4 linked regions of the Homo sapiens genome follow. The protein of the gene in region 2 purifies or fractionates together with the protein of the main gene of each other region. This does not show direct contact. Each region holds a gene or a part of one and is shown on either strand. Other genes may lie near its edges.

Region 1 (3,982 bases), on a different chromosome or scaffold from region 2:
TACTCTGGATATTTTTTTCCCTTTAGATTTTCAAAGAACACTTCAGTTCAGAAGTGACGATTTCAAATCTTCTGAATCTCTTTCAAAGAGCAGAACTTTCAAAGAATGGAGAATGGTATGTATTCATTTCTCCTCATACTATTTTGAATTGATGAAGTTCTTATATCAAGTTCTTTCTATTTCTTCTTCTTTTTTTTTTTAAGGCTTTGATTACATGACCCTTTTGTCGTGGTAGTAGAACAGATCTTACTGTAATACTCTCTTTCATTATACAGTTAATTAATTTGTGTTTGTGTGTGTTCATTATACTGTTCTCTATGTTTGGAATTTCTCTTAATAAAATGCAAAAGGAAGTATATAATGTATGATATTGCATTCTGGGAAGTAAGATGGGTAGGACTTTCTAATTTGCTGCTTTATGTAATTTTTACTTTATAATTAAAAACAAATACCAATGTGTTAAACAAATTAAAAAATAAGTTCAGAGACACATGATACCATCTGTGGTAAGTTTTTAATGAGCTCTGTTTATTTCATTTTTGGCACCAAAGCTTTTTGCAAGAAAAAGTAAGCAAGCTCCATAGAGGATGAGAGTGTGTCTTACGTGTTTTTGTATCTATCGTATGGGTAGATATCTATCATGTAGGATGTGCTTGGTTCATTTTTTTTGAGTGCCTGAGTGAACCTGATTTCCGGTAGAGTTGAGACATCTAGTGTGATATGTCTTATGTTATAGTTAACCTCTAGTGATTTCTCTAAGAAAAATTATTATTTTTTTTTTAAGATTAGACAGGATGAGCAGATTAAAAGTATTGTTGGCCAGGCACAGTGGCTCATGCCTGTAATCCCAGCACTTGTACAAAAAATAAATAAATAAAAATATTGTCACAGATAACTCTGTTATTGGCATGGATTTTAAGTGGTGTCTTAGTGTATCTGAATAATAGTTTTGGTCAGGAGACCAGGATATTGTCAGTTAAGCTGGAGTAATGTAATGATGAATTTTTGCCCAATTGAAGCCTTCCAATGTGTCTTTCAACCAAGTGTGCTTGCATGTCTTTTAGGTACGAGGTACTTAAGATAGCCGCTGACATATTAATTAAAGAAGAGATACTGAGTGAAAATGATCAGTTGTCAAATCAGGTGGTTGTATGTTTGCTGCCATTTATGGTTATCAATAATGATGATACGGAATCTGCTGAGATGAAAATTGCTATATATTTATCAAAATCAGGAATCTGCTCCCTGCACCCTCTATTAAGAGGCTGGGAAGAAGGTAAAAAATTCAGTTGTTTTTTTAGAAAAAGTGAACAGATAACACAAAAGAAAACAAGGAAAATTTAAAATTTATTGTTGGTCATGCTTATATGCCAGTAAGGTCTTTTAAAATTTTTGCCAAGATAAAAAGTATACAGTGAAAAGGAAGCCAATTCATAGACAAATTCAGAATCGGATACAAGGAAAAATAGAAAGCAAACCTTCATAAACAATAGTAAAATGTTTGCCTGAATTCTTCATGTGATTCTTTGAGTGTTGGTGACATAAGAGCTCTCTGCATTCGATTTTACTTTACAGCTCTTGAAAATGTAATTAAAAGCACAAAGCCAGGAAAACTAATCGGTGTAGCAAATCAGAAGATGATTGAGTTGTTGGCTGATAATATAAATTTAGGAGATCCTTCTTCAATGTTAAAGATGGTAAGTATGCTTTGAAAGTCCACCCCCTGGATTTCTTTCTCATACTCTTATTAAATTCTCAGCTTTTGCTTTACTAGATTTTTCTTAAAAAAAATTTCTTTTATTCTTGAGTACTTGGTTTTACTTTAAACGTTGCAGTGTTGTTTAATATATTCTGTGCAATGTTTGAAATCTTTTAACATTTTATATATTTTTTCAATGTGGATCCATATCACACCCATAAGAATAATATATCCTTTTTACCACCATTTTTTCTCATTCCCATTTAAAATATTAGTCTTTTTGTTGTTGTTGTTGTTAAAATAGCAAAATATAATCCCAAAGAGGAGAAAATTATCTTTGCCTTATTAAATAAACCTTTGTAAAGGATTAGATGTGTGATTTAAATACATTAACCAGTTGGCAAGTGCAATTATGTTCATTACAGTTTCTGAAATTATTCTTATAATTACTTAGAAATCAGTGCTTAGTACTTTATAAAGGCTTTCTGTTTGTCATCTCACTTTAAATGTAAAACACATAATACCTAGATAGACCTGAGTTGAAAAAATTGTTTTATGAAAATCAAGAGCAACTGGTAATAGAGTGTGTTTATTTTTCAAGGTGGAGGATTTAATAAGCGTGGGTGAGGAGGAGTCCTTTAACCTGAAGCAGAAAGTAACGTTTCATGTGATCCTGTCTGTGCTCGTCTCTTGTTGTTCATCTTTAAAAGAAACCCACTTTCCATTTGCGATAAGAGTCTTCAGTTTGTTGCAGAAAAAAATAAAGAAGCTTGAAAGTGTCATTACTGCAGTGGTAAGGAAAGCAGAATCTCCAGAAAGTGGGATGTTGAATAAAACAACAGCCTGGCCTATTAGTCACAGCAAAACTGAAAATCAGAGGCGAGATGTTGAGTCTGTGGATAGTAGCTGGATGAAATGTGAAGCAGTCTTGGGTAGCAGTGAGATAGTCAACTAGGCACTCCCTTGCTTTTGCGGAAAGTTTAGTTGAATTATAAAATTTTAGGGTTGCAATATTTTGTATCTGATGCCTGACTCTCCTCTCTTTTATTGTCTTTATTGGATAATTACCCAAGCTACACCTAACTACCTCTAGCGATGAAGAATTCACTTGGTGTGTTAGTGCTTGAACAAAATACTATTTCATTCAATTGTTTACTAAAAATAGATCTTTTAGGCTTTAAATAATTTTAATATTACATAGATGTGTATCCCTCCAGCCTACTACTGTCTTTCATAGTATTACTAAAGGACATGTTTCAGCTGTTTACATTTGACATGTTTTGAGGTAGCAAGACTTTTTTTTTAATATCTGCTATATGTAAGGATTTTGTTTTTATTTGTCCTCCAAATTTTAGAGGGCTTCTCATTATAGGATTTACTAAATGAATTATATCTTTTTCACATTTACGTATACCCGCAGGATTTTATAAGTTCTGATCATGGCCATTGTTAGCTAAAATGTGTAAACTTTAAAAAGAGTAAAATCTTCATATTTTGAAAAATAGTCCAGATAGGCCCTTCTTAACTTTTAGTTTCTTGGTGTCTTTTGTGAAGTATGATGACCTGAACTATACTGGTTCTCAGTGTTAAAAGTATGGACAAATAGAGTGTTTTATTATACATATGTAGATAACAGGTTATTTTATATTGCTTTACTTTTAATACCTTTCTCGAGGTCATGAGCATGTTTTCGCCTGTAGCAGCACGTTGAGTTAATCAAATCCCTCACTGGAGACGTTACATTGTAAATCTGGCTTTGGATTATTTTCCTTCTAAGTTATTACTCTGTACTGCTTGTACAGAGTCATATTTGTCATTTTCTTACACCTGTTCTGCATTCTTTTGGCACTTACAGTATAATTTCTAAACACCTAACATTTTGCTGCTTGTTTAAAATCATCTGCAGGTTTGGAGATTTTTGCCATGTACCTTATTCAGATTAGTGGTAAAACAGTGAAATCAAAGAATTCCCTTTAACTATGTCTTGGCAATCCAACTGTTTATCTTCCTGTTTTGAAATATACCTATTTTGGCCAGGCACGGTAGCTCACGCCTATAATCCCAGCATTTTGGGAGGCCGAGGCGGGTGGATCATCTGAGGACAGGAGTTCGAGACCAACCTGGCCAAAATGGTGAAACCTAATCTCTACTAAAGATACAAAAATTAGCCAGGCATGATGGCGGGCACCTGTAATCCTTCCTACTCGGGAGGCTGAAGCAGTAGAATTGCTTGAACCTGGGAAGCGGAGGTTGCAGTGAGCTGAGATTGTGCCGCTGCACTCC
Region 2 (5,409 bases):
CCCAGAAGTGGAGTCCTCGATGAAAAGTGGCTGAGCCTTCCCCGGGGCGGAGAGACTGATGTGAGGCTGGCCGGCCTGACGGGCGGCGGGAGGATGAGAGGACACAGGGCGAGGAAGGGGAGGCAGACCCTCCCCGCGGCGCGGGGCCGCGTCCCCCACGGGCCCTAAGGCCTGGCGGGGCGCCGCGTGTGCTCGCGCGCGTCCTCGCGGGTGCAGGCGGAAAGCTGGGGCCGCGGGTGGCGCGCGTCGGGCGCGTAAGGCTGTGCTGGGAGCTGCTCCAGTGTGGCCGGCTGCGGGTGGGGGGCCGGGGTGAGGGTGGGGGACCGCGGAGAGCAGCGGGCGTCATTATCTGGCCCCAGCCCGGCCCTCCGCGCCTCCTGCCCGGCCTTTGGTTGTTGCGCGCTGAGCCTGGAGTTTCCCTCTGGGTCCTTTCTTGGAGCCCCCGGGGGAGGGGGTGCCATCAGGCTGGGCCCGGGCCGGCGGGACGCCCCGGGGCGGGGGGACCCCGGGCCGGGCCTGGTGCGAGGGGGAGGGGCTCTCTCTGCGGGACAGGGACTGGCTCCGGGGGGACGCGCTGGCATTGCGCGCGGCGGATGTGGACGCGGGGAGGCGCGGGCTGCGCGGCGCTGGGGGCCTGGCTCCGGCTTGGGCTCGCCCTGGGCCCAGGCCGCGGCCAGGAGGTTGTTTGGGGCGGAGGTCAGCAGCAGTGGCCGACCCTGGGGGCGTCTGCAGCTGGAGCCTGCTTGAGAGCAGAAGGCAGGAGAAAAGAAGAGGGCAAAGAAACAAAACAAGGAGAAATATTTCAGAATCCTCCTGGGCACTGAGCACTGGAGTCCGGCATCCTCAGAGCTGAGACTGAGACCATGGCACAGATGGGTAAACTGAGGCCTGGCTCTCTGTCCTCCAGGGCAGGACCTCGAGGGGCCACACGCTTCCAGGCTGCTGCTGGAAGAGCCTGCTGCTGGCTTTCTTTGGGGTCCTCATTTCATCTTTAAAATTCTCATGGATTTTGCATTCTAACCTAGAATATACCTATGTTTATATTAATATGAAATAATGTTTTCTCCCAAGGAGTCAAAGCACTGGGCTTTATCCTTTGGCTTCCAATGCCCCATGGCATACCAGAGGCTGTGTGTGGACCCACTGGCCCCCATCAGCTTTTCCTAAGCCTGGCCTCTCCGGCACCCCCTCCACACATGCTTACTGAAGCCACTTCACTGAGCCCAGTGACAGGGCTGGAACCCGAATCAGAGTGAGGCAGAGCACAGTTGGGAGGTGCTGGACAGGAGGTGTCACTGAGGGTCCCTCCTGATCTTCCATAGCCCCTGACCTTGGTTCTGGAGAAGCCCCTCCTGGTGGAGGCCTGTGGCCACCCTCTGCCCACCCTGGGGCTGGCAGCGGTTTCTCACCTGCTGGTGATGGCTGTGTCCAATGCTGGGGCCGCGCCATGGGATCTGCTGGCGGGCTGCTGGGCTGCAACAGGCATGGGCATGCGGAGGCCAATGGGGCGGGGAATCCGGCTCCTGGTGGCGGCTGCCCTCCCGCTCTTCCTGGGCAAGGCCGCTGCCGGCTCAGAGGCGGGCGTGTCCTCCTCAGAGCCCGTGCCTGAGAGGGTCTCAGAGGCACGGCGCTGCTCCTCACTGGAGGAGGACGAGGCCCCTGAGGCCAGCCGCAACAGCAGGCGGCCCTGCCTCTTCTCCATCACCAGCCGCGCCAGGTCCTGCTGCGGCCGAGCCCGCTTGCTCCACCGCTCTTTGGCCGACAGTGAGCCTGAGGGCTCCGAGCCCGTGTCCTCCTCAGAGAGCAGGACAGGGATACGGCTCCTGGGGCGAGAGCCTGGCATAGCATGGCGTCTGGGGGAGATGGTGGCCACTTTCTCAGGGCTTGGCTCCAGCGGGGACACCGGGGCTGGCCCGTCTGCAAGGGCCGGGCCATTGGGCAGTGAGTTTGTGGCCATCTCTGAGGGGGTTTCCCGGGGGGCCCCAGACAGGGCAGAGCCCTCTATCTCAGCCCCATTCAGCCCTGACAGGGCGAGGCCGTTCTCCAGGGGCGCTCGGGCCCCCTCCTCCACAGCGCCCCCATCAGAGGCCAGCTCCAGACCCAGCTCGCCCCCAGCGCTGAACTCCTCAGACCGCAAGGCTTGTCCACCGGAAGACATGACGTTGAGGTGGGTTTTCTCCGCAATGTGCACAAAGGTCCTCTCAACTTTGGTGAAGGGTGAGGAGGTGACTGCCACGCCCCCGACCCCTGTGGTCACTGTCCCGGCCCCCAGCCCTGCCCCAGGCCCCGGGGGCTTGGGCTCAGACTTGAGGACAGAGGACAGGGTGCCTGGCTCAGATACGTCCAGCTGGCTGCCCGTGGGCTGGGGCCGCTCATGCTGAGGAGTGAGGGCAGCCAGGGTGCCCAGGTCGGGGTCGGGGGCCAGTTCGGCAGTGACGGGCGACTTCTTCATGTCGCCAGGAGAGACAAGCACCAGCGTTTTGGAGCCCTCCTCAGGCTCCAGGTCCCCATCGGCCATGGAGGCCCGGCCCCTGGACTCCTTCTGATCGTCTGCCAGCAGCGTGGACGGGGCACCCTCCTGGCTCCGGTCAGTGCTCCTCTCACTCCCCTCACTGCTGGAGCCACTACGAGGCCCCAGCACCTCCCCCAAGGCAACTGCCGCTGCAGCCTCCTCCTCCTCTTCCTCCTCCTCCTCTTCTTCCTCCTCCTCTTCCTCTTCCTCCTCTTCTTCTTCCTCATCCTCTTCTTCCTCTTCCTCATCTTCCTCCTCCTCCTCCTCTTCCTCCTTCCCATTAGCCTGAGGCTGAACAGGAGCCAGTGGGACCTGGGGGGTGGTGAGCAGCATGTGCGAGAAGCCCACCCTCCGGACCCTGTTGAGCAACCGCGCCCGTTCTCGGTAATCGGAGAGGTCTCTTTTGAAGTCCTGGTAGGGCAGACTCAGAGGCACAGCTCGTGGGAGGCCATTCACCTCAAATGGGGGCGCCACGGAGAACACCTGCAAGGGGCATACACAGGGACCCTCTGAGGTCACCCACCCTCCTGGGCCCAGGAAGACTTCAGCTGCACCCACAACCTAGGAGACTCACAGGCCCAGGTCGTCTACCAGAGTGTGAGCTCCATAAAGTTAAGCACAGGCACTGGGTCTGTCTTGTTCACTGCTCTGTCCCCAGGGCCTAGAATGGTCTCTGGCGCCTAGTGAGTGCTCAGGAAACCTCTGATGAATGACTGTCCATGCTCTAGGTCCCCTGAAGTCCCAGGCCCTGATCCTGGTGGCCTTTCTGCCTCCCAGCCTCTCTATGTCCCCAGCCCCTCTCATCGCCATGTGCATCCTGCACCCGAGTCAGCAACAATAACAGAAAATGAAAACTGGAAGGAACCACGACCACCACGCAGATCAGCCCTTCCTTTTACAGATGAGAAAGCCAGGTCCAGAGACGGCGGCAAGTATCTGTGCCACTTCCTGGATGGGCTGTGCCGGGCTGGCTCCTAGATGCCCTCAGTACCACCTCAGGGTGTGCAGTTTCTCTGTGGCCAGAGAGCTGGCTGCCCAGGGCCACCAGATCCTGTGCTGGACAAGGGCAAAGGCGGGGCTGTCCTCTACCCTTAAAAGTGCAGGCTGGGCCCCTCGACCTCCAATCCATCCTCTCAGCCAGGAATTTGTCCAGCCCTCGACAGGTATACTTGAGCTCCATTCCATTTTCCTCTTCAAAGTTTTGTGCAGAGCCCTTGGCAATGTGATGGACAAAGCAGTCCTTGGTTTTCTAGACTCTTGCCATGTCCCCCTTAGCCTCCTTCCTTCCAGACTAGAAAGGTCTGACCACCTGGTCAGGACCTTGGCTGCTGTGTCTCCTTCACTCTAGCTCCACCCTGTTCAATACACAGACATCCCCAGGCACCCGCAATGCCCTGGGCGCATCAGGGCTGACACAGCTTTGTTCCATGGTGGGACGGTGCTGACGATGTCCAGCACTTTGCTAGCATTTTCGAACACGCTGGGCTTCTGTCTTCCTAAGCTAGCCGAACACAGCCCATCCAGACCAGAAGCCCCGGGGATATCCTGCCTCCCCACTTTCCTGCCCATCTACGCTGCCAAGGAGTCCTGCCAAGCATCCTTCTTAAACTTCTCTGTGTCTGCTACCCCAGGCCCACGAGCACAGCCTTGCCTTTCCTGGTGGTTCCCCAGCCACCGGCCTGTTCTCTCCATTCTGCACTGCCGTCCATCCTTTTTACATCTGCCTGAGTGATCTTCCTGAAACTTAATCTGATTCCATCTCTCTCTGCTTCAAATCTGCTATGGCTGCCACAGTCCTTAGGAGACAGTTCAGATCTTTTTTTTTTTTTTTTTTGATATGGAGCCCTGCTCTGTCGCCCAGGCTGGAGTGCAGTGGCACGATCTCGGCTCACTGCAACCTCTGCCTCCCGGGTTCAAGTGATTCTCCCATCTCAGCCTCCCTAGTAGCTGGGATTACAGGTGCCCGCCACCACGCCCGGCTAATTTTTTTTTATTCTTAGTAGAGACGGGGTTTCGCCGTGTTGGCCAGGCTGGTCTCAAACTCCTGACCTCAGGTGATCCACCCGCTTCGGCCTCCCAGAGTGCTGGGATTACAGGCGTGAGCCACCACGCCTGGCCTAAGACAGTTCAGATCTTTGACTTGGCCCATGAATCCCCCACCCAGCCCTGTGACCTGGCTACTACTGGCTGCTCTGGTCTCACTTATTGCAACACCCTCCGTCCCCTGCCCCTGCCTACACTCCACGCATTCCGATGCTTCCAGAAGTTCCTAAGTGCATCTTCCAGCTCACACTTAGCCCAGGCAGTTTCCTCCACCTGGGGGCTCCTCTCACCTCCTCTCTGCACATGATAACTTGCTACCCTTCCTTCAAGACCAGCTCAAACAGCTCCTGGTCTTAGCAAAGAGGAGACAAAGCCTTCCTGTCAACTTTCCTGTCCACCCACCAAGCAGATTTACTTATTCTCCCTTTTCTACTTGTTTTCCACATCCTTCTGTGAGAGAATCTCCCACCTATTGTCCTACATGCGTGTATTTATAGGGTTCCCTCTCCTGATACACAGAGATCCCTGAGGGTTTCTTCATTTACTCCCTCAAGAAGTGGTCTTTGAATGTCTCTTGTCCTGGTCACCATGTTATAGTCTAAGAATCTGTGGATCAAGTATGAACAAGATAGAGATGGTCCTTATTTTCTCTATATCAGGAAACTAAGTGGGGATATGCACATTCCACAAAGGTTGTGATCATAAATGAGGTCATATAAGCAAAGGCATATAGCAGTTGCTCAATAAATGTTAGCTCTCTCCCACCCCTACCTCCCACCTCCTGCTCTGCTCACCTTGGTTTGGAGGTCATTGGCCCCCTCCCCAACCCCAGAAAAGCCTGGATGCCACACCTA
Region 3 (3,982 bases), on a different chromosome or scaffold from region 2:
GAGCAGAAGACTTGTAATATTTGGAGTCAGAACTGAATTTGAGTTCTTTTCCTTCCACGTGCTAGTTGTGTTACTTTGGCTGAAGTGAGCTGGTTTCTATGTGCTTCAGCTTCCTCATCAGTAATATAGAAATAAGAAGCAATATTGATGATTGGGCATCACAGAATTACATCACATGTAAAGAGAGGGCCTGGACCACAACAGGGGTTTGAATATTTTTTTTCCTCCTTCTTATGTATGTATAAACTCACTCTTGCCAGTTTTTAAAATTATTTTCTTCTACAGCAGTCATCTTAGATTTAATTTATGGGTTCTTTTAAGAGCTCATCACATTTTTAAAGCTAAGTCAAAATAGCATTTTCTCTTTCTCTGCATCCCATTTCCTTCTGAAATCACCGCTTTACCTTTCCTGCCTGCGTCATTTATTCGTTTTTAACCATGTTTTCTGTGCCTATCCTGAATTCTGGGATGAGTTCATAGGGGAGACAGGCACAAACTGGTCATTTTAAACCAGCATGGTACATAGAGTAATAGGGATATGTACCAGCAGGGGCTGGTGAAAGGGTGCGGGGGGTAATACCTTGCTGTGTTTAAGTTGCTGACATCTCTCCTACCTTTTAGTTATTCTCTACTAGTGCGGGATTACTGCAGCTGTGGGGATACCCAGGGCTAACTATTAGGTGGTTTTGTTCTGGATATTTATCTTACTTGTTGGTCGGCTATTAGGAGAGAAGAAAAGAAAAGGAAGCTGTCATTCTTCAGCTTATGTAAAATCGTCCTTTAATGCTTAACACAGACTTCTTTAGCTGGAGAAAAACCGACTCTTGGTGCAGTGCTCCAGCAGAATCCCTCAGTGTTGGAGCCAGCAGCTGTGGGTGGGGAAGCAGCCTCCAAGCCAGCCGGCAGCATGAAGCCTGCCTGTCCAGCCAGCACATCTCCTCTAAACTGGCTGGCCGACCTAACCAGCGGGAATGTCAACAAGGAAAACAAGGGTGAGTGTTTCCTGCTTTTGTGTTTGTTCTTGAGTATTTTAGTCCATTCGTGGAAGGACTTGAGAGAACAGTGGTTAGAAGTCGTGTGGAATGGAAAGTGCTTCTCTGGAGTCATCCTGGAACCTGCCACAAATGAAAGTGTTTTTGAAATGCAGCACCAAAGAGGAGAAATTTTGCTGCATTAAAATTTAGGGACTTCCACCTTCTGGCTGTGTTACAGAAGAGAAGAATTGCAGGCCACTTCTTTCATGCAAAGATCTGGAGCAAAATTTTAATGAATCAAATTTGACACTGTAAATGAAGGAATATTTGAATGTTAGACTACATCTGAATTTCTGGAAAAACCTTTATATAGCTTTAAAAATGTGATAAGGAGCTCTTAAAAGAACTCATAAATTAAGTCTAAGATGACTGTTGTAGAAAAAAATAATTTGAAAAGCTGGCAAGAGCACAGCTGGTGAGTTTATACATACCTTAGAAAGAGGAAAAGGAATATTCAAACTCCTGTTGTGGTCCAGGCCCTCTCTTTACATGTGATGTAATTCTGTGATGCCCAATCATCAATACTGCTCATTATTTCTGTATTACTGATGAGGAAGCTGAAGCATATAGAAACCAGCTCATTTGAGCCGAAGTAAGACAATTAGCAAGTGGCCGGAAAAGAATTCAAGTTTTTCAAGGTTTTTCCAGAAATGAAGATACAGTCTGACATTCAAAAATGTAGAAGAATCATGGGACAAGATGCAGGAAAACATTAAGTAAAATTCAGTACCTGTTAATGATTTACAAAAAACTTCTTAAATTAAGAACATTCTTAATCAAGAGTTTAAACCAAAAAACAAGACTGGAGACATCATAAATAGTCGTTGAATTTTTTTAAAAATTTGTTTTGAGTTTTTTTGAGACGGAATCTTGCTCTGTCCAGCCAGGCTGGAGTGCAGTGGCATGATCTTGGCTCACTGCAACACTGCACTCTGCCTCCCAGGTTCAAGCCATTGTCCTGCCTCAGCCTCCTAAATAGCTAGGATTATAGACGCCTGCCACCACGCCCTGCTAACATTTGTATTTTTAGTAGAAGTGGGGTTTTGCCATGTTGGCCAAGCTGGTCTTTGAGGTTTTTGTTTGTTTGGTTTTGTTTTTTTTTTTTTAAACAGTTTCTGTGTTCAAGAACAAGACAAAGGATATCTGTTTTCACTCTTTATTAAGCATTGTACTGGAAGTCCTGGTCAGTGCATTCAGGGAAAAAAAATGTGTAAAGAGAATGCTGCCAATATTTGTAGACAGTACATGCAAAAAATCCAAAAGAATCTACATTTACTAAACATTTGTCAGGGTTGCTAGATACAAAGGTCAATTTACAAAATTCCATTGTACTGGATAGTTATTGTTTTTAACATCAGTGAGGAATCGTCTAAGTAAATCATATCATTCATACTTACTCCCTAAAGTATTTTTTTTGTTTCAGTAAATAGAAAGCAAGTTCTAAAGTAATTCTGCTAGTAGAATACTAATAAGGGATTTGCCTTTCAGAATGTTTTTTCATCTGGATGTTTTGGTTTTATTTTAGAAAAACAACCAACAATGCCAATTTTAAAGAATGAAATCAAATGCCTTCCACCCCTCCCACCTTTAAGCAAATCCAGCACAGTCCTCCATACGTTTAACAGCACAATTTTGACACCCGTAAGCAACAACAATTCTGGTTTCCTCCGGAATCTCTTGAATTCTTCTACAGGAAAGGTATGTGTTTGTTTGTTGGTATTCCATGTTTTAAAGTTGAAGACAGAACAGGAAGAGAGTAGAGAAGTTGGAACTGAAAGTAGAAAGGAGACTGAATCACATACTTACCTTTGTGGGTTCAGAAGGCTGAGTCACTGGAGGATGGGTTTTATGGGACTATAGTTCTGAGCTGGGCCACTTTCTCCTGTTACCTCACTTCTATGAGTTGTCAAGTGGGGACAGGGGACGTACCTTTTTGCCTGGGGGTCCTGGCTTGGAATCTTCTGGATATGTAATCTATACTCATTATGGGAATGGAGTTTCTTGATGGTAAGGGAATGACATATTTGAGACTTTTGTTCTTTCTCCAATTCAGACAGAAAATGGACTCAAGAATACACCAAAAATCCTTGATGACATCTTTGCCTCTTTGGTGCAAAATAAGACGACTTCTGATTTATCTAAGAGGCCTCAAGGACTAACCATCAAGCCCAGCATTCTGGGCTTTGACACTCCTCACTATTGGCTTTGTGATAATCGCTTGCTGTGCTTGCAAGACCCCAACAATAAGAGCAACTGGAATGTGTTTAGGGAGTGCTGGAAACAAGGGCAGGTAATGTAGGCCTCCCATCCTCCTGCCCTATTCAGAACCCCCTTCTCAGTTCCTTTAGCAGACTTCTGACAACCCCACCCCAGGCTTTCCCCCTCCTTCACCTCCTGTTTTATTCTTTATTGTTTCAGGTGAATATAATCAGGTCAGGATGTGGCCATGGGTCTTACTTTTTAAAGCAGATGGTCCTAAGCTGGACTTTTCCAGTCAGGTTTTTGTTGCTTCCTACCAGTCCCTGTTGGGTTTTTGACGAGGGCATCCAGGCTTGGTGATTCCTATGGTAAACTTCAGCAGAGGAAGTGAGGGTGTGACTACAGGCTGATGGGATTTGGGAGATCAGACAAAATGTGCTACAAAATCATGCACCCCTCTTACCTGAATGAAAAGCCTGTGCTGAAGGCAGTTCTAGGTGGGCTAGGGCCGCGTGGTGTCACATAGTCCCCAGGTGCCTGCTTCAAAGGGCAGTGTTGTTGGATCTTAAGTGCCGGTTAATATCTTTAGGAGAATTTCTAGGCCTGCTTCTGTGCTTTCTTGTTTTGGTTCTGTTTTCTGGATCTCTGGCTTCTCTGTTTGGCCAGATAGGGTCTTTGCTAAAGGAACACTCTGCTCTTGGACAAGAATTTGGGAGAATTGCCAAACAGAAAGATGTGAGTGTTTAACC
Region 4 (3,982 bases), on a different chromosome or scaffold from region 2:
CAGGCATCTGGCCTCAGAGATGGGCTCCTCTGTGCTGAGAACCATCATGATACGATCCAAATTCTAAGGGCTTTTCCATACATTCACGTGTTAAACTTTTTTTCCTGTGAATAAAAGGCATATTCATTATACGGGCAGAGGCTGGTAAACGTCCATGGCCTCACCGGAGGGCTCTGCTTCACCACACCTGTGACATACGCACACCGTGTCCTTCCTGTGGGCTCAAGGCCTGCCCCTCATGCCCTCTGCAGCCTGGTGAGTGACTCTTGCCTGCAGTCAGCTAGAATGCACACAGGGCCACAGCAACTCCTAAAAGCCACCGCCATCCCCAACTGACAGGCGAGGCCCGATGCTGTGCACAGGGTCCCGCCTCGAGCCCAGGTCCTTTCCCTCCAAAGCAGCATCCCTGATCTGCCTGGAGACAGCCCTGCACAGGCAAGGCTGCGCGCAGCAGCTCGGCGATGACTGCTCCCACCCCAGCGCTCTGTGTGACCAGCACCGCGTCCTTCCCTCCCTGCCTGCTCCAAGGGAGACGCTACAGAGGAAGCCATGCAGAGAGGGGAGACAGAGACTCCACAGCAGCCCTTCAGCTGGGCCAATACTCCAAAGTAACCCTCCGCAGCAAGCAGCTCTCCAGCTGGGCCAGTACTCTGGAGTAACCGAGGGCTGCCACAGTGGCCACATCATAGCTCAAAGGGTCACGCCCTACGCCCTACACCCCGAATGTGTCACCTCTCGCAGTGGTGGGAACTGCAGGTGGATGAAGCGAAGGACCTCAAGATGGGAGATGATCTTGGAATATCCGCATAGGCTGCACAAAGGGAAGCCGAGGGAGCCCTGACTACGGAGAGAAGGCCGTGTGCCTGCAGAAGCAGAGCTGGACGTGAAGCAGCTGGAGCCAAGGGCACAGGCGGCCTCCAGAGCTGCAAGAGGCAGGAACGGACTTTGCCCTGGAGCCTCCTGACGGAGCAGCCCTACCACACCCAGCATCAGCTCCGCAAGACTCGTCTCAGAATCCTGGCCTCCAAGCATGTAAGAACAAACTCGCATTATTTTAAACCAAGCGCGTGAGCATTCGCCGCAGCCGCAGGAGCTCGCGGGCAGCAGGGCCTGTACAGTCACCTCCGCTCATCCAGTCTCACTATTCACGGTTTCAATGACGCGTGGCCCACTGCAGTCTCACAACAGACGAGCACAGTACCGGAAGGTATTTTGAAGAGAGAGAGCACTTTCACATAACTTGATTACAGTACATGGTTATAACTGTTCTGTTATTGTTAACCTCTTACTGTGCCTAACTTATAAATTAAGCTTTATCATAGGTACGTATGTATAGCAAAAAGCATCGTAGGTACAGGGTTCCATGCTACCCAGGGTCTCGGCATTGGCACGTCCCCTGTGGATAGGGGCGACTGCACACCAGGAAAAGATGCCTAGTCTGAGGGCGCGGCCGAGAGCCCTGACCCCAACCAGCGAAAGGCGCTTAGGCTGAGGGCGCGGCTGAGAGCCCTGGCCCCGACAGGGGAAAGGCGCCTAGTCTGAGGGTGCAACCGAGAGCCCTGACCCCAACTCACCTGCTGAGGGCTGAACTCAGGCATCATCACACAGGTGGCTCCCACCCAGAGAGGACAGAGCAGCGCGTTGACCACACCATGGACGTGGTGCAGCGGGAGCACGTGGAGGATCACGTCGTCTTTGGTCCATGCCCACTTGTGGACCAGCCCGGTCACCTGCAGGGGACGAGAGCACAGCTGAGAGCAAGAGCAAGACTGTGGCCCGCAACAGCACACACAGACCTCGGGCTCACGGAAAGGAGCTCTGGGCCTCCCCACTGAGGAAGGGGAAGGAGAAGGCTGGCTCTTTGTTGCTCCCCTTTAGCAGCCTCTCAAGATGACGACAAAACCACAGCAGATCTGCTGGGTCACTCACTTACCCTGGGGACAGAGGACAGCGCCACACACAGCCAGAGGCTTTAGGGAATTTAGAAGGTCGGGGAGTGGCTCTGCAGACACCAGGTCGACAGAGCTCCGCCCCTGCCCAAGCCTGGGACTCAGGGACCCAGCGCCATTCAGGCTGGAATCGACTCCCAGCCCAACCACTGGCTCAGGTGACAGCACTGCCCACACAGAGCTCTGCCGATTCGTGAATTATCGTCACCTGCTCAGCCGGGACAGAACCCAGGCCAGGCTCCAGAGCACACCCTCAGCTCTTACTGAGAAGCAGCGTGAGGCACGGCCCACTGAATCCTCTGTCCAATCTCACGGAGGACACTGCCTGCTGCCTGCACAGGCTCCAGGGAGAAGCACATGTGCATGTCACTCCCCTCAGCAAGGACAGAGGAGTCCAGAGCCCGTCCCTCCCGACAGGCGCGCCGCTTCCAGGAGTGACGGCGCAGGCCACCCAGGGCCCAGCCTGCTGTGTGCTCATGGCGCCTCGTCAGCCCACGACTCCGTGGGGTACACTTCCTGCCTTCCCCTTCCTGGCTTTTGGTTTTCATTTTTACTTGATTGCTTCAAGTGCATAGGAGACGTTATGACACTGTACAAATGCCAGGTAAGTGATGTGGTTGGAGAGTTCTGTGAAGATGTGACTGAGGTCACAGGACACACAAAAAACGAGTAAGACCCGGGTGTATGTGGGGTCCTGACCACGCATCCTAACACGTGGCTGGCCTCCGAAAAGCCCCTCAGCATCACAGGCAGTGAGTGGTCCCTTCTGACCTCATGCCGCATGGTCCTGGCAGGGTCACTCGGCGGCCCCTCAATCCCTCTACACCTGGACGCTCCCAGAGCCGTCCTGCGTGGCCAGTGAGGCCAGCGGCCACACCCCGAGGGCCTGCGTCCCTGTATCTCACACGGGTCTGCAGGATGGTGACAACTGTGAATGACTCCACAGAAAAGCGAATGAAAAGATGTGCTTCTGGCCCGGAGCCCACCCGGAGTGCTGTGCGGTCACCGAAACCATCACGGCGCCAGGCGGCACTCACCACAGCCCTGATGTTTTGGTGCGTGCTCAGCACGCCCTTGGGCCTCCCCGTGGTCCCACTGGTGTAGATGATCATGGCGCCCTTGTTCCTCCATCCCTGCTCTGGGACCGGGACCTCTGCCGGTTCCTCTACTGCTCCAGTGTAGATGGCTGGTGTGAGCGGCAGCAGCGGGACCCCCAGCTTCCTGACCACCGGGCTCAGGAGCTCCAGGTACTCCTGGCTGGCAAGGACCACAGAGCTCTGGGAGTCGCAGATGACATACTCCAGCTGGGCCGCGGGATGCTTCCTGTAGAGGGGGACTGCCACACCGCCACTCATCCATGACGCCCACTGGGCCACGACGTAGGAGGCATCGTTAGCGCATAGGAAGGAGACCCTCTCCTCCCGGAGGTCCCCGCCGACACACCCGCAGAGCCTGCAGATCTCCTGGGACAGGCGAAGGCTGCGGGAATAAAGCTCCCTGTACGTGTGGCGGCCGTGCTGGTCAACCAGGGCGATTCTGTCCCCAAAGGCCAGGGCACGGGTGAACACCGGGGCGCTCCTGTCCGAGCGGGCCACTGGGGCTGTGTGCAGAAGACCACTTCCTCTGTGTCTCGCAGGCGCCAGCCGGCAGGACGCCAAGGCGCAGCCCAGGCGCCGGAAGGTGAGCACCACATGGGGCAGCATTGCACTGACAGGCGGCCGAGCTGGAGAAAGGCAAGGCACAGGACGTGAGTGCCCAACTGTCCCATCCAAACGTGGCCAAGACAGGATTTAAAACACCTCCCCAGTACCCAGCCAGGTACGCCTGCTGCACCTTCAGTCATGAGGCAGCGCACCAGACAGGCCACGTCCAGCCTTTCTCACCCACACTGCTGGAACGTTCCGTACGTGCCCAGCATCTCAGCTTTCTATTTCACTTCATGAGTTTAAGGATTCCCAAACCACACAAAATTCTAAACAATGAAATAAACTAGGTAAAACCAAGGAGAAGCATATAAAATTCAACACACTTAA

Evidence for each region. The genes of interacting proteins can lie anywhere in the genome.
Region 1: the proteins of TTBK1 (region 2) and HEATR1 purify together in Homo sapiens (affinity purification with mass spectrometry; one large-scale study listed by BioGRID and IntAct). This does not show direct contact.
Region 3: the proteins of TTBK1 (region 2) and KDM3A purify together in Homo sapiens (affinity purification with mass spectrometry; one large-scale study listed by BioGRID and IntAct). This does not show direct contact.
Region 4: the proteins of TTBK1 (region 2) and ACSF3 purify together in Homo sapiens (affinity purification with mass spectrometry; one large-scale study listed by BioGRID and IntAct). This does not show direct contact.

Annotation. Positions count from the first base shown.
Region 1 is NC_000001.11:236,583,535-236,587,516, reverse strand, and holds part of HEATR1 (HEAT repeat-containing protein 1), read left to right. Parts: intron 1-26; coding exon 27-115; intron 116-1,064; coding exon 1,065-1,276; intron 1,277-1,575; coding exon 1,576-1,697; intron 1,698-2,300; coding exon 2,301-2,492; intron 2,493-3,982. UniProt on the Homo sapiens protein: Ribosome biogenesis factor; required for recruitment of Myc to nucleoli. Involved in nucleolar processing of pre-18S ribosomal RNA. Required for optimal pre-ribosomal RNA transcription by RNA polymerase I.
Region 2 is NC_000006.12:43,280,313-43,285,721, reverse strand, and holds part of TTBK1 (tau-tubulin kinase 1), read right to left. Parts: intron 2,996-5,409; coding exon 1,410-2,995; intron 743-1,409; coding exon of another isoform or gene 740-742; coding exon 346-739; 3' UTR 1-345. UniProt on the Homo sapiens protein: Serine/threonine kinase which is able to phosphorylate TAU on serine, threonine and tyrosine residues. Induces aggregation of TAU.
Region 3 is NC_000002.12:86,479,371-86,483,352, forward strand, and holds part of KDM3A (lysine-specific demethylase 3A), read left to right. Parts: intron 1-796; coding exon 797-992; intron 993-2,559; coding exon 2,560-2,732; intron 2,733-3,087; coding exon 3,088-3,324; intron 3,325-3,982. UniProt on the Homo sapiens protein: Histone demethylase that specifically demethylates 'Lys-9' of histone H3, thereby playing a central role in histone code.
Region 4 is NC_000016.10:89,100,352-89,104,333, reverse strand, and holds part of ACSF3 (malonate--CoA ligase ACSF3, mitochondrial isoform 1 precursor), read right to left. Parts: intron 3,673-3,982; 5' UTR 3,653-3,672; coding exon 2,987-3,652; intron 1,731-2,986; coding exon 1,575-1,730; intron 1-1,574. UniProt on the Homo sapiens protein: Catalyzes the initial reaction in intramitochondrial fatty acid synthesis, by activating malonate and methylmalonate, but not acetate, into their respective CoA thioester. May have some preference toward very-long-chain substrates.